2 separate regions of the Homo sapiens genome follow, and region 2 is linked to region 1. The links come from fine-mapping of genetic effects on gene expression. A gene starts in region 1. The other region holds a variant in brackets. All regions are shown on one strand. Distances are from middle to middle.

What was found.
Region 2: its variant is fine-mapped to the expression of CA6 in whole blood (TOPMed, PIP above 0.99). The same link has a PIP of 0.9 or more in sun-exposed skin.

Annotation. Positions count from the first base shown.
Region 1 is chr1:8,942,543-8,950,937 of GRCh38, forward strand. It overlaps CA6 (carbonic anhydrase 6), which reads left to right and starts at 3,326. Exons shown (of 8, transcript NM_001215.4): 1 at 3,326-3,423; 2 at 6,721-6,900. The coding sequence starts at 3,345.
Region 2 is chr1:8,971,044-8,979,302 of GRCh38, forward strand. It overlaps CA6 (carbonic anhydrase 6), which reads left to right. Exons shown (of 8, transcript NM_001215.4): 8 at 3,579-4,049. The coding sequence ends at 3,661. Among named protein-coding and RNA genes, the nearest start is that of CA6, 29 kb to the left of the region's middle. The variant A/G (reference allele first, on the strand shown) is at 3,496.

The DNA of each region.
Region 1 (8,395 bases):
GGCTGGCCATGCCTCCCTGCCTCCTTCTTTTTCCTTGCCTCAGTGGGCCTTGTCGGGGGGGCAGTGGTAGAAGCAAGGAAGAACAAAGGCTCCTTTCTCCCTTTGACCTGATGTTGTAATAATGATAAACTTGTCAACTCATCTCCGACAGCCAATCCAACCATAGACCCTAGAAAAATAGGAGTTTAGAATTAAAAAAACAACCTTGATCAGCCAAGGATATGGTTGGATGAAGGCAGAAGGAAGCTCATAGCATAGAGAGACACACTAAAAATAAAAGCAACAAAAACAGAGCACACATAGGGCACGCACCTGTTGTCCCAGCTACTTGGAGGGGATGAGGCGGAAGGGGGTGCTGAGGCGGGAGGATCACCTGAGCACTGGGAGGCTGCAGTGAGCCATGATTGCACCACTGCACTCCAGCCTGGGCAACAGAGTGAGACCCTGTCTCAAAAAAGAAACCAAAAACCAAAAACAACAACAACAAAAACCCACTGCCACCACCACCAACAAAAGCAAACCCAAACAAACAATGTGCCTCCCAAATCCAAGAAGAAGACTCATGTTCAAAGGTGACGGAAAATTTCAGGTTTGAAGTAGACAAGGAGTCAGAAAATAGGCAACACTACTGACCACACCTGATTCTGGGTCCAGTATGTCCTTGGCAGTGTGCTGTACAGCGGAGGGAGGGGACCCTCTCTCTAGAAATATGCCCTCGTTGGCAGATGGCCTTGCTTCTCCAAGAGGCCATCATCTGATCTGACCCCCGTATTGCCTTAATTACTCACTTTCACACCAATTCTCAACACCAGCCAGGTCAACAGGTTGCTGGCCAGTCCAGGCTCTTGCCTGAGCGAAAGGCAAAACCAGGGCAAAGCTTCAGATGTGATGGGTGGATACGCTGCACAGCAGTTCTGCAGAGGGGCTGCTGGCATCACAGCTTCACAGACGCAGTATGTGCACTGTATTTTAAGGAGCTGTGTGAGGCAAGGAACGCCCCAGAGCTCTCCTGGGAAGCCCCAAATGCTCACCGCAGGGCAGTGAGACCCGTGGGGCTGGGAGCTGCCAGGAGTGGTGGGCCCTCTGCATTTCACTGTGCTCTCCCGCAAGCACTCCTCTCTCTGACTCTCCAGGGCCCCTCTTTGGGCAGTCTTCCCCTCCCCCTTGGCCCAGGCTTTCTCTGAGCTCCTTCCTGCTCCAGTTCCCCTCGCCTGGGCTCATCCAGTCCTCCCAGGCTTCCGTGACAGCCTGACATTTTAGTCTCTGCCTGCCTGCAGCTCCCTGATTCTTTCTGGGTCTCCCAATTCAGATTCCCAAGAAAAAATTCAGATGACTGAGTTTGTGTTTTCCTGCCAGTTTGATGTCAGGGGTCCTGCCTGGGCTTGTAAAGGGTCTTGGTCTCCTCAGCAGAGGTGGGGCCTTGTGATTTACAAGGTGGCCCTTTCCGCAGGGCTGGGAGTCAGCAGGTGGGCGTCACTGGTTTAGCAAGGACAGAAGAGTAGGTTTCTCATTTTTGCAAAGAAATGGTCCATAAGCTGGAGATTGAAGCATTTTTCCTCCAGTTCCCTCACTAACCAGCTGGGTGGCAATGATAAATCACTTCCTTTTCCTATAAAATGAGGGGTCTGAATAGATGCTAATGCCATTTGCTACACACCAGGCACTGCTCCAACTACTGCAGGCACATTTATTGCCGAATCCCCACAAAGGAGGTGCTATCACTAACTCCTTTTAAAGAAAGGAGGCGGCCAGGTGCGGCGGCTCACGCCTGTAATCCCAGCACTTTGGGAGCACGAGGCGGGAGAATCGCTTGAGTCCAGGAGTTTGAGGCCAGCCTAAGCAACATGGTGAAAACCTGTATCTACAAAAAGTACAAAAATTAGCAGGGCGTAGTGGCATGCGACTGTGGTCCCAGCTACTTGGGAAGCTGAGGCAGGAGGATTGCTTGAGTCCAAGAGAAGTGAGCTGAAATCGTATCATTGCACTCCAGCCTGGTGACAGAGAGAGACCCTGTCTCAAAAAAGAAAGAAAGAGAGAAAGAGAGAAAGAAAAGAAAGAGAGAAAGGAAGAAAGAAAGAGAAAAAAGAAAAGGAAGGAAAGCTGAGGCACAGAGCGCTGAGTTGCCCATGGTCACACAGTTAGCAGGTGGCACAGATCCTGTCTAGTTTCAGAATCCTTGTCCTTGAACATGCTTTGCTCTCTCTCTGAGATTCTTTCAGCTCTTGAGCTTTAGAAATGGAAGTTTCCAGCAAGTTCTTTGCAGCAGCTGATGTTCCCTATTAAATGACAGTGGGGAGTCTTAGAAGTATTCGGGAGGCCTACGTTCACCGCTAACATCCTTGTTGTGAAGGCCTGCTGACGTTTGCCATTCCAGGACCAAGTGGACAATGAGTTAAGCTAGGCCAGGAGGGGGTTCAGCTCCCCATAACAAGGCAGGGGTGGCCCTTTGTGTCCGGCAGCATGGTAGCCCCCCCGCAGGAGCTCCGGCTACCCTTTGTGTTTGACCTTGTGGAAGGGCATGGGAAATGCTGGCCTGTCAGCAGGCATAAACTCAAAAGTTTCTCCTTCAGCTAATTTCAGGGACTGTCTAGCCAAGTGAATACACAGGATTAGGTAATCCATGGATCCTGCGAGGGCAATTGGCTGATTGGCTTAGGTGTGCCCAAGAGCCCTGCAGGTGTCAGAACAAATCCATGTAGAAATGCAGACGCCCACACCAGCTTGAATGGCATAAAGGCACACATTGGAATGTGGCTCATGAGCTGGGACCCAGGATCAACCACTGGTTTAAGGAGAGGACCGTGAAATGTCCAAACATGGAGGCCAGGCCACCTCCCTGGATGCCTGGCTGAGGGCAGCCACATGTCTGCAGCGGTGGCTTGTGTCCATGACTGAGATGGGCAGGGTTTGCAGGCAGTGGTGATCCCATCAGCAGTCCCCAGATCTCTAATGTCAGGAGAAAGAGCATGGGAAGTCCGACGTCCAGGAAAGTCTTTCATCCTGCTTCTCCCTGCCTTGGGCCTTTTCCCATTTCCGCGGTCACCTGTCCACAATGGCTGCACTGTGTGGCTCTTCAGGTGTTCCTAAGACACTGAACAACCAAACCCATGGACTGACCGGATATGAAATTGACGTGGGAGGAGATCAGGCAGGTGCTGGGGCTGCCTGGCGCAATGCACGGAGCCAGAAGTGCTGTTATGGGGAGGGTGTTATTGTTTTAGTGGGTGCAGCAAAGGGTGGTTTAGCCAGCTGGGCAGATCAATTGTAAATTGTTATTTACAGTTTCTGAGCCTTTAAAAGAAGAGCTTCGCCGGAATCAGTCTTCATTACAGATGTGCAGCACCATGAGGGCCCTGGTGCTTCTGCTGTCCCTGTTCCTGCTGGGTGGCCAGGCCCAGCATGTGTCTGACTGGACCTACTCAGGTGAGCCCCTAGCTTCTGCATGCTCCCCCAGTTACCCTCACACCCTTACAACAGGACAAGTGCCCTTCTTCTTCTTCTTTTTTTTTTTTTTAGACAAAGTCTTGCTCTGTTGCCCAGGCTTGAGTACAGTAGTGTGATGTTGGCTCACTGCAACCTCCGCCTCCCGGGTTCAAGTGATTCTGCTGCCTTAGCCTCCCGAGTACCTGGGATTACAGGTGCCTGCCACCATGCCTGGCTAATTTTTGTATTTTTAGTAGAGACAGGGTTTCACCATGTTGTCCAGGCTGGTCTCGAACTCCTGACCTTAGGTGATCTGCCCATCTCCCAAAGTGCTGGGATTACAGGCATGAGCCATTGCGCCCGGCCAAGAGTCCTCCTTTAGGGCATTTCACAGGATGGCCAGGCAGCCCACTTGCCATATGTTGGGGGTCTGCTCATTGTGGCTTCAGATGTTACCTTTTCAGTGTCTCAGAAGGTATGGAGAATAAGCTGAACTTAAACTTCAAATAAGGAAAAGAAGGAAATAGCTTTCCCCTTCACAAACTCCTGATTTACTTACAGGCTTTTTGCTTTAAATTTTTTTCCATCCACAGTGTTGGCTGGTTCAAAAGCACACTCACTGCTTCTATTTGTAAAACCATTTGCTTTGTTGGTCCGTGTAAGTGGAAAACAAAGTTCTTAGAAAAGACTCTCGGTAACCTCACGGAAGGTGCTGTGGGGTTTGCGAGACCTTCTTTCTTGGAAATTTCATGGTAGGCAGTTTACCCAGAACATCTTGACATAAGGACCCAGTTCCCTTTGATCTGTGGGCTGCCAAAATGAGAGGTGTTTTTTTTTTTGTTTTTTTTTTTTTTTTGAGACAGAGTCTTGCTCTGTTGCCCAGGCTGGAGTTCAGTGGTGCCATCTCGGCTTACTGCAACCTCTGCCTCCTGGTTTCAAGCGATTCTCATGTCTTAGCCTCCCAAGTAGCTGGGATTACAGGCACTCATCACCATGCCTGGCTAACTTTTGTATTTTTAGTGGAGATGGGGTTTTACCACGTTGGCCAGGCTGTTCTCAAACTTCTGACCTCAAGTGATCCGCCCACCTTAGCCTCCCAAAGTGCTGGGATTACAGGCGTGAGCCACCGCGCCAGGCCCCAAACCAGACTTTTAAAATGTGAAATGTAAAATCCTGGCATTCAACATGGGTTCTGGTCCACATGTGAGCCAAAGCTAGAAGGCCGTGTCTGTGGACTTTGTGGACACTAAACAGCCCTTTCCAGGGGCAGTGAGGAGAGCTTCTTCCCGCATCCCCCTTCTTTCCATACGGGACCATGGATTGGGGCCCATGAGGAGGCTGGTGGCCGCTGGCTGATGCAGGAAGTGAGACAAACATCTGCTTCCTGCAGAGTCTGCCCCAGTTCAGCTGCTCCGGAAGCATTCCTTCAGGGTGAACGGGATGATCTGTTAAGTCAAGGGCAACGGAATTAGGGACATCCTGGGAGGTTCAGAAAGTCCAGCCAGCTCTGAACAACCGCTCTGTTCCTGAGGACAGTGATCTTACACATGGCAGTGCCTCGGAAGCCTGGGGCATTCTGCTTCACTTGGCCAAGCAGTGCAGGCAGGTGGTTCAGAGGTGAAGGAAGAGAGAATTCAGACAATGAAGTCCTTGTCCTTCCCAGGCTCTGCCCAGCCTCTGAGACAGTGGGCTTCCTGGGAAACTACTAGGGGCTCCAGGAGAACTTGAGAGTAGCTTTTGTAAATGCCTTCCAGGGAAACCTGAGAGATGTTCCAGTATTGACAGTGCCCTGGGCCAAAGCATCTTGCTCTGAGAAGGCGTTGTGCTCCAGGCCAATTGCCTTGATTACAAACCAAAAAGCGGTGAGGGCCCTAGTACAGACACCTTTTTTTTTTTTTTTGAGAGTTTCACTCTCGTTGCCCAGGCTGGAGTGCAGTGGCGCGATCTCGGCTCACCGCAACCTCTGCCTCCTGGGTTCAAGTGATTCTCCTGCCTTAGCCTCTCAAGTAGCTGGGATTAACGGCATGTGCCACCATGCCCGGCTGATTGTTTTTTATTTTTAGTAGAGATGGAGTTTCTCCAGGTTTGTCAGGGTGGGTCTCGAGCTCCCAACCTTAGGTGATCCACCCGCCTCGGCCTCCCAAAGTGTTGGGATTACAGGCATGAGCCACCGTGCCCAGCCACAAACACCTGTCTTAAAACAAGCTGTGTACTCACCACACAGCTACCCCCGAACAGGGAACAGAGGTGGGATTCTCCATGTCACATGGCTGACTCCAAGCTCCACAGCTGTATGGGAGCCAAGTCACCATGATAATCACTCACCTATGTTACTCTGTCCCCTACGATTATCAACCCTCTCTGAAAAGATAAACTTTCTCCTTATGAATTTTAAAAAAGTACTCATTCTAGGTTGTCCTGGAACCTGATGCTTCCTTAGTTTCCCTGAATCCATAAGTGTAGACACCTAGATGGTCTTTACCATACGGGAATCCATAAAAGGGGCTGGAGCAAGAAAATAGTGGTGGGGGGTTCCTGCAGCATGGGGAGGTGGGGGCTGTGTTCCTGTTGGGGGCATGGAAGGACAACTGGGCCCTTGGGAGGAAATGAGGAAGAGGCCCCAGGAGCAGCACAGGAAGAGCAAAGCCAAGGATCCCTCCATGCATTCACCAGCTGGAAATAAGTCAAACGAGAGCAAAAATTTACGTATAAAACACTCTCAGGCCGGGCACGGTGGCTCACGCCTGTAATCCCAGCACTTTGGGAGGCCAAGGTGGGTGGATCACCTGAGGTCAGGAGTTAGAGATCAGCCTGGCCAACATGGTGAAACCCCGTCTCTACTAAAAATACAAAAATTAGCCAGGCGTGGTGGTGCATGCCTGTAATCCCAGCTACTCCGGAGGCTGATGCCGGATAATCTCTTGAATCTGGGAGGCAGAGGTTGCAGTGAGCCAAGATTGCACCACTGCACTCCAACCTGGGTGACACAGCGAGACCCTGTCTCAAAAAAAAAAAAAAAAGACTTCCATTGATTTCAAAACACTGTCTTGCTCCCAGGGCCAGCAGTTGCCACAGGAAAGTTAGAGGTTAGCACCAAAGCCCCCCAAACACCAGAGTCCTTGGAGTTGACCTCGTTGTCTTTTTGGCCTCCTTCTGGGGGACCTGCTTCTGCTTTCTGGAAGGTGCCTCCGTGGGTCCCCGCCCAGCAGGCCCTGGCCTCTGGCCTCTGGCCTGGTGAGGTTCCTCCAGAGTGGGCGCAGCCAGGCAGCCCCTTGAACTGTGTCTTTCCTGTCTTAGAAGGGGCACTGGACGAAGCGCACTGGCCACAGCACTACCCCGCCTGTGGGGGCCAGAGACAGTCGCCTATCAACCTACAGAGGACGAAGGTGCGGTACAACCCCTCCTTGAAGGGGCTCAATATGACAGGCTATGAGACCCAGGCAGGGGAGTTCCCCATGGTCAACAATGGCCACACAGGTAAGAGGAAGGGGTGGTGAGGGGCTCCAGTCCATGGGCAGCCTGCAGGGGAAGGCAGGTTACACGTGTCCCTGCCAGGAATGGCTTGCACAGAGACACAGAGCACGGCCTCAGAGCTGGAGGCCTCGAACATGAGGGTCGAACATGAGGGCTGACTGGCCCCGAAACCTAGTGGCTCTTCCAGAGAGGGCAGCATCCATCTTTCGACTCAACTCCCTGCTGGTCCCTTCCTGCAGCGTTATCCTCTTACCCGAGCTCACCCAACCCACCCAGCAGGTGACAGGCAGGACAGGCCGTGCTGCTGAAGCCACCCTTCCCACGGGGGCTTTCTGTCCATCACCTTGGGTCAGCTTTTCCACATTTCCTATATTGAGTCTATTCAGCTCAAAGCACCTGACAGGTAGGACCAGGGTTTCTCAGAGTTTTAAGAAGAAAGCTCTGGCTTTCTGATCCCTACAAGAAAGAAGGTGAAGGTCAGACAGAAAAAGCAGGGCCGTGGGGATGCCCCACTTCAGGAATCCGATATGAGAAACTGTAAATTTTGTTTATTTTTTTGAGACAGAGTCTCACTCTGTTGCCCAGGCTGGAGTGCAGTGGCAGGATCTCAGCTCACTGCAACCTCCACCTCCTGGGTTCAAGCGATTCTCCTGCCTCAGCCTCCTGAGTAGCTGGGATTACAGGCATGCACCACCATGCCCAGCTAATTTTTTTTGTATTTTTAGTAGAGACGAGGTTTCACCATGTTGGCCAGGCTGGTCTGGAACTCCTGACCTCAAGTTATCTGCCCACCTTAGCCTCCCCAAAGTGCTGGGATTACAGGCACGAGCCACCATGCCCGGCCTGGAAACTGTGAAATCTGTGCTTTACTTGTGCAGAATATCCTCCTGATTTTCCAAGTTGGCTCGACTCCTCTGAGCCTCATGACCACCCCAGGAGGGGGCATTTTTTAGGCAGGAAGTCTGAGGCCTCAGGAGGTCGAGGGACTCACCCAAGGCCACACACTGTCTAATGGCCAAGATGGGCTCACACCCCCAGTTGTCAGGTTTCTTGGCCACATCCTCCTTAGGTTCTGCACTCTCTCACTCCTGCTTGGGTTGAGATACATCCCTGCCTGCCACACAGCGATAGGACAGTCACTGGACTTGGCCAGGCATGGTGGCTCATGCCTGTAAACCCAGTACTTTAGGAGGCTGAGGTGGGAGGATCACTTGATGCCAGAGTTTGAGACCAACCTGGGCAACTTGGTGAGACTTCATCTCTACAAAAAATCAAAACATTAGCCAGGAGTGGTGGTGAGTGCCTGTAGTCCCAGCTACTCGGGAGGCTGAGGTGGGAGGATCACTTGAGCCTGGGAGGTCAAGGTTGTGGTGAGCCGAGATTACCACTGTACTCCACCCTGGGCAACAGAGCGAGACCGTTTCTTTAAAATAAAAAAATAAAAGGGTCACAGGACTTAGTGTTCTTATCTTGCACAATCAAGAAAATAAAACCAGCC
Region 2 (8,259 bases), 28 kb after region 1:
GGTGGACCCATCTCTTCTGGTGATATAAGGGAAGGAGAGTCATTTCAGTAGCAAGAGGCTCAGGTGGGCCAAGCTGCACAGGGCTTGGGCAGAGGGTGATGACTTTTTCCCAGTCCAGGCAGGGATGCCAGTGAGTAGAACACACGAGACAATCAGAAGCGACAGCTACGTGATTTATTACCTACCTAGTCTTGGCTAGAGAGAGCAGGAGAAGCAAGAAGACCACAACATCCGGAAGCTCTCACAAGAGTGTAGGTTCAAGTTAACCTTTTTTTTTTTTTTTTTTGAGACAGAGTCTCACTCTGTCACCCAGGCTGGAGTGCAGTGGTGCAATCTCGTCTCACTACAACCTCTGCTTCCCGGGTTCAAGCAATTCTCCTGCCTCAACCTCCCCAGTAGCTGGGACTACAGGCACCTACCACCACGCCCGGCTAATTTTTTTTTTTTAACTGAAATGGGGCTTTGCCATATTGGCCAGGCTGGTCCCAAACTCCTGACCTCAGGTGATCTGCCCACCTCGGCCTCCCAAAGTGCTGGGATTACAGGCGGGAGCCACCGTGCCTGGCCAAGTTAACCTTATTAACCCCACCCAGATTATTTCCTGCGCATCTTGATCATAGTCTGTGTTATGAACCCACCCCCAACGCCTCCTATACATTCTCTCAAAGTGGAGTTAACTAGACCACATATTGTTCCCTGCATCTGCCTGGGGCGCAGGCCCCAGACCCCAGCGTGCTGGAAGCAGGTGCGGGCAGGCCAGCCTCCGCTGCATCCTCCAGTTCCTTGGATCAGGCTCCAACCGTGTCCTTGGCTCACCTCGTTTCTGTGTTGGCAAGAGTGTAAATATTTCACAGCCTCCTCATCTTTATTTTGTCTGCTTTCTGTAAAGTTGTGGTGAATCCATTGTCTTTACAGCCCATTCTGTTAACCATTCCTGATACCTTTATATTTTCCAATACAGTAGAATCAGTATCCTATCAATATTGTGTACTCAATATTATCCCACTTTTTTTTTCTTTTTTGAGACAAGGTCTCAGTCTGTTGCCCAGGCTGGAGCTCAGTGGCACAATCACGGCTCACTGCAGCCTCAAACATCCAGGCTCAAGTGATCCTCCCACCTCAGCCTCCCCAGTAGCGGAGACTGCAGGCACACACCACCACACCCAGCTAATTTTTTTTGTAGTTTTTGTAGAGATGGACTCTTACTATGTTGCTCAGACTGGTCTCAAACTCCTGGCCACAAGCAATCCTCCCCCCTCAGCCTCCCAAAGTGCTGGGATTATAAGCACGAGCCACCTCGTTCGGCCTTATCCCATCTTTATATGTACCTTTTAAAACTTAAATTTCCTCCGGGTGTGGCGGCTCACGCCTGTAATCCCAGCACTTTGGGAGGCTGAGGCGGGCAGATCACGATGTCAGGAGATCGAGACCATCTTGGCTAACATGGTGAAACCCCGCCTCTACTAAATATACAAAAAATTAGCCAGGCGAGGTGGCGGGCGCCTGTAGTCCCAGCTACTGGGGAGGCTGAGACTGGGGAGGCTGAGTAGCTGGGCATGAACCCGGGAGGCGGAGCTTGCAGTGAGCCGAGATTGCGCCACTGCACTCCAGCCTGGGCGACAGAGAGAGACTCTGTTTCAAAAAACCAAAACAAACAAACAAACAAAAAAATTAAATTTCCACCTCCCCAACCCGAATAAGGCCTATTTGTGATTTTCTCCCCACCTTTCCTTCCTGGTTCACTTACTGAATTAACAGAGGATATAGGTGTTTTCTATATTGTTTCCTGAAATACAATTCACTCCTCCAATACAATACTAACAGAAGAAAAAAACTGACATCAGTTACAGTAATCATTTCCCCATATTATACCATATACAACATTAACAGCAAGAATCCCTTTGTCCGAAAGTGATGTCGTCTTTAACAGGTCCAATTGCAAGCAGGCTGACCAAAGGGAGCTTAGACTCATGGGTCTGTCTCCTAATTCTTTTGGAGTCTCTCACTCTGTCGCCCAGGCTGGAGTGCAGTGGTGCAATCTCATGGGCTCACTGCAACCTCCGCCTCCCAGATTCAAGCAATTCTCCTGCCTCAGCCTCCCAAGTAGCTGGGATTACAGGCACGCGCCCCCACGCCAGGCTAATTTTTGTATTTTTAGTAGAGATGGGATTTCACCATGTTGGTTAGGCTGGTCTTGAACTCCTGACCTCAGGTGATCCGCCTGCCCGGCCTCCCAAATTGCTGGGATTACAGGTGTGAGTCACTGTGCCCGGCCTGTCTCCTAGGTCTAAATGTTGCCATATTTCCCCTGCTTTCCCTAAAACAATTTTACGCTATTCTTGCAATAGTCACTAACAGACTGCGTATCGTTCTATTTGCCACATCTGAAATGCTTTTTCCACTACAGCGTCACTCTAGCATCTCCTCACGAGGGGGTCAGATGTTCTAGGTACCGGCCCCAGACTGAGGTATTCCATGCTGTGATTTGTCTGTAGGTCCACTAAGAATCGCTGTTTAGGATCGATTACTTCAACTCCCAGTTCAGCATCAGAGGGCTTCCTTACCCCCAGGGAACCCGAATTGTGGCCTCCCTTTGCTGATTATAGAACAGACAACTGGGCATCATCTTGGCCCACCTTCCCTCAGGCCTGGATTTTTCTTTCTCTCTCTTTCTTTCTTTCTTTCTTTCTTTCTTTCTTTCTTTCTTTCTTTCTTTCTTTCTTTCTTTCTTTCTTTCTTTCTTTTCCCTCCCTCCCTCTCTCTCTCTCTCTCTCTCTTTCTTCCTCTCTTTCTTTCTTTTTTTGACAGAGTCTTGCTCTGTTGCCCAGACTGGAGTGCAATGGCGCAATCTTGGCTCACTGCAGCCATGACCTCCAGGGCTCAAGCAGTCCTCCTACCTCGACCTCCCAAGTAGCTGGGAGTAGCATGTACCACCACACCCAGCTAATTTTTGTATTTTTTTGTAGAGACGGGCTTTGGCCATGTGGCCCAGGCTGGTCTCGAACTCCTGAGCTCAAGCAATCCACCCACTTCAGCCTCCCAAAGTGCTGGGATTACAGGCATGAGCCATCGCGCCTGGCCAGGCCCAGATTTCTATGTAGCAGTGATTGGCTGTGGTCAACCCAGCTGCGTGACTCATGGTATTTCACTGTTCTGTAGAGAACTGTATCCCAGCGGGGTTGATATGATTAACCCACCTGCAAGGAGTGAATTGAGAAACCAAGGTCAGTTACAAAAACAAGACGATGGCCAAATACGGACCTCTTGCGATTTATTTACTAGAAAACGCCTATATCCCCTCAGGCAAGGGCCACGGGGGGCATCGTGGGAGAAGCCAAAATCCAAGAGTACAGCCCACCTCAACACGCCACCCCTTGGCTCTGGGCAGCTTAGAAGCCTGAGTTCAAACACAGTGAAGATGACTAAAGGCAATGCACCGGGCACGTGGAGAGCATTCTAAGGAATCAAAAGACTTCCCAAAAATACGATGCGGGT[A/G]TGGTGTCTGGCCGTCCCCCTTCTCTGTTTTTGTGAGGACTGTACAAGGTTTAACCATTTCCGACTAACTCTTCTTTTTACAGAATACACTCTAGGCTCTGAATTCCAGTTTTACCTACATAAGATTGAGGAAATTCTTGACTACTTAAGAAGAGCATTGAACTGAGGAAAGCTAAGAGGAAGATTCAATATTAACTAGCTTGAAGCCTGACCTAGCCAGAAGTGCCTGTCCGCTGCAGCCGCACCCTACCTTGTCTAAGAAACCATGTGTGTCTGGAACACGCTGCTCCCCCTGGGGCAGCTGTTGGGATTCTGATTAAAAGAGGGGAAACGATCATCCTGGACAGGAAGTGAGATGGCTTCAGTTCATGAGACGGGATCTGAGTTAGACATCACCAGTGGAAATTGATTGGAATAGAAACTTAAAGGAAATGGAACCCTAACTATTCTCCCATCAAATCATATATGTTGACCTGTCTGAATTATAAACCAGCCTGACCTTTCCTTTAGCATTAGATGTAATAAAATAACTTTGGAAATTTGTCATTTAAAAATTTCTTTCCTATTCCTTTGTATTACTTCAAATATCCCTTCTTTGTTCTGCCCGCCCCCGACTCCTCCCCCCACTCCTCCCCCTACTCCCCCACAACCGCACATAGGTGAAGGGATAGAGATCAAAGTGGGAGGGATTTCCAAGACTAAGATTAATAAAAAGGAAGGAGGTGTTTTTTGTTGTTGTTGCTTATTTTTTTGAGATGGAGTCTCACTCTGTTGCCAGGCTGGAGTGCAGTGGCACAATCTTGGCTCACTGCAACCTCCACCTCTTGGGTTCAAGCAATTCTCCTGCCTCAGCCTCCCTGAGTAGCTGGGACTACAGTTGCGCACCACCATGCCCAGCTAATTTTTTGTATTTTTAGTAGAGACGGGGTTTCACCATGTTGCTCAGGATGGTCTCGATCTCTTGACCTTATGATCCGCCCGCCTCGGCCTCCCAAAGTGCTGGGATTACAGGCGTGAGCCACCGCGCCTGGCCTTTTCTTTTCCTTTGAGACAGAGCCTCGCTTTGTTGCTCAGGCTGGAATCCAGTGGTATAATTTTACTGCAACCTCTGCCTTCTGGGTTCAAGCAATTATTCTGCCTCAGCCTCCCAAGTAGTTGGGATTACAGGTGTGCACCACCACGCCCAGCTAATTTTTGTATTTTTAGTAGAGATGGGGTTTTGCCATGTTGGCCAGGCTGGTCTCAAACTCCTGATCTCAGGTGATCCTCCTGCCTCGGCCTCCCAAAGTGTTGGGATTACGGGCGTGAGCCACCACCCCTGGCCTAGGAAGAGATTCTTACACTGAGAATTTGTCAGTGGGGAAGTTTGGAGCAGTGGCTGTGAGTCAAAGAAAAAACAGGAGACGAGAAAGAAGAAGGGCTCCCAGGACAGAAGGAAAGAAGAGAGGGGACCTCACTGCAAACCCCCTTGTTGGTCAAATGGTGCCTGGTCCTTGTTACCAGACCCAGATTCAGGCATCCCATTAGTTATGTGGGATGATAACATGACCTCACAGGGCTCATAGGGCTGTGGCTTCATTAAATAACACTGAGAAGTACCCAGAAGAGTGACCCATATTTTTTTTATCATTAAATAACACTGAGAAGTACCCAGAAGAGTGACCCATATTTTTTATTTTTATTTTTATGTTTTTTGAGACAGGATCTTGCTCTGTGGCCTAGGCTGGAGTGCAGTGGTGATCCTAGCTTCATGGCAGCCTCAACCTCCTGGGCTCAAGTGATCTTCCTACCTTTGGTCTCCCAAGGTGCTGGAATTATAGGCATGAGCCACCACACCTGGCTGCTACCAATTTTCTTGGTCACTTATGCATTCCCTTCATCGATGCCCCTTCCTTCCCATGCCTTAGCTTCCTCCTCACTTCTGATTGAGCTCACCCTGGCTCTTCTGAATTCCTTCTGCTCTTGTTACCTCTGTTGTTTTTCCATGTCATTATTTGTCATATCCTAAGCACTTCCACCACACGTGACTGCCCTCAGCCCCGAAGGCCACCTTCAGTGAACTTGCATTATCCCCAGTTTACAGAAAGCAAACCAAGACGTCGACTTGCCCAAGATCTCCTAGGTGGCAGATGAAAAGCCAGGATTTGAACCCAAGTCTTTTGTATCCACATTCTTTTAACCATAGGAAGCCTCCCTTTCATTTTCTCAACAAGCTTTCTTATGCACTTGCTCTGAGCCTGACATAACACTAGGTGCTGGGGGTTCAGGGATGGGTGAGAACAGCTCCCACACTCCTACAGCTCGGGTCTGGTGAGCAGAGTGGACACTAAAATAAGTAATCGCCATATCGCCCCATGGTGGAGGGAGCGCCTGTGTTTAAAATCCAAGTGCTTGGCCTGGGTTTTGAAGGCTGAGAAAGAGTTCACCTGGGAAACCAAGTCAGAGAGGGGCGGGGGTATTGTAACCCGAGAGTGTGGCATGTGCTGATGGGAAGACACCTGGGGAAGTGGAAGCAATTTGGCGTGGTCAGAGGACCAAGTTCAAGGATGCTGGCACGGAAAGCGGGGGTGTGGCCAGGGCAGGTCAGGCCGTCACTGGTATCTTCTGTGCCACTAAAGGGTTTCGGATTTTACCCTGTAGGTGACGGCAGCGACTGCAGGGTTTCCACAGGGGAACGACACGGTGCGATTCATTCTTTCCACCAGATATGTGTGTCTATAATGAATGAGAGACGCAACAGTGGGCGGTACGGCCAAAGAGCTTACTTACATTCCTGTGGGAAGGCAGACAAGGAAATGAAGATGGAGATGGGATTACACTTGCCTGTCCTCAGGGATCCAGCCCTCCCACCCCTGAAAGTCTATCCTTAAGAGAGGCTTGTGGCCGGGCGCGGTGGCTCACGCCTGTAATCCCAGCACTTTGGGAGGCCGAGGTGGGTGGATCATCAGGTCAGAAGATCGAGGCCATCCTGGCCAACATGGTGAAACCCCATCTCTACTAAAAATACAAAAAAATTAGCTGGGTGTGGCGTGCATCTGTAATCCCAGCTACTCGGGAGACTGAGGCAGGAGAATCGCTTGAACCCAGGAGGCGGAGGTTGCAGTGAGCTGAGATCGTGCCACTGCACTCCAGCCTGGCGACAGAGCAAGACTCCATCTCAAAAAAGAAAGAAAGAAAGAAAGAAAGAAAGAAAGAAAGAAAGAAAGAAAGAAAGAAAGAAAGAAAGAAAGAAACTTGCAAAAAAGCCATTCATGCTGACCTTTTTAACAGCAAAATACAGGAAAAAACACAAACGTCCATCAGTTGGGGATTGGTTGACTAAACCAGGGCTATTCACACAACAGAGAACTGCATAGGGAATAATCTCTAGGCTACATTTGTTTCTTTTTTTTGAGATGGAGTCTCTGTCACCCAGGCTGGAGTGCAGTGGTACGATCTCAGCTCACTGCAACCTCTGCCTCCCAGGCTCGAGTGATTCTTCTGTCTCAGCCTCCTGAGTAGCTGGGATTACAGGTGCATGCCACTAACGCCCTGGCTAATTTTTGTAATTTTAGTAGAGATGGGTTTTGCCATGTCGGCCAGGCTGATCTCGAACTCCTGACCTCAGATCATCTGCCCGCTTTGGCCTCCCAAAGTGCTGGGATTACAGGCATGAGCCACTGCGCTTGGCCTGTAGGCTATGTTTTTAAGCCTGAAAAAAGCAATTTTACAGATGGCACAAGAAGAATTAGAAATATGAATATAGTTAAGTATTTGTTTATGTTTTGAAGCACAAACAGGGAAAAAGAAACCAAAAATAAATTAAAATGGTTTCCTAGGCTAGGCGCGGTGGCTCACGCCTGTAATCCCAGCACTTTGGGAGGCCGAGGGGGGCGGATCACGAGGTCAGGAGATCAAGACCATCCTGGCTAACACAGTGAAACCCCGTCTCTACTAAAAATACAAAAAATTAGGCGGGCGTAGTGGCGGGCATCTGTAGTCCCAGCTACTAGGGAGGCTGAGGCAGGAGAATGGCATGAACCCGGGAGGCGGAGCTTGCAGTGAGCCGAGATCGCGCCACTGCACTCCAGCCTGGGCGAAAGAGCAAGTCTCTGTCTCAAAAAAAAAAAAAAAAAAAAAAAAAAAAAAAAAAAAAACAACAACAACAAAAAAAGGTTTCCTAAAAAGAGAAGGCAGGGGAAGGGTGCTGAGGGTGGCGTGGGAAGGTGGAGTTTTCTGGATGTGCCCTGTTTGGTAGTTTTGACTTTGGAACATCAGGCTTTATGTAATTGCAAAGTAAAATTAAGTAAGTAAGGAAAAAAGCATTCCTGAAACATAAAACGCGAGTTACGTTTCAACATAAAAATATAGCAGAACAATTGAACAATTATACATAGGGCCGGTGGCATGAACACTGAAGGATTTTTTCATGTTATTTTAGACACGGTATTTTTCATCTACATACCTGCTGCAGTATATCCTAAGGACAAGAAGAAGTACCAAGGAATCTTAAACAGTACTTAGGAATCCTCTTAAAAATTATATTGGTATTGTTATTTTGAAATTGTGTGTGTGTGCAATTACTATCCTCTACTACTATATGTGCACAAATAATTATGTTAATGTCCTCACTAACAAGATTTTCAGCATAAAAAACAGAGATCCAAATTGAAAAATTAGGCTGGGCTTCATGGCTGACACCTTTAATCACAGCACTTTGGGAGGCTGAGGTGGGAGGATCACTGGAGCCCAGGAGTTCAAGACCAGCCTAGGTAACACCGCAAG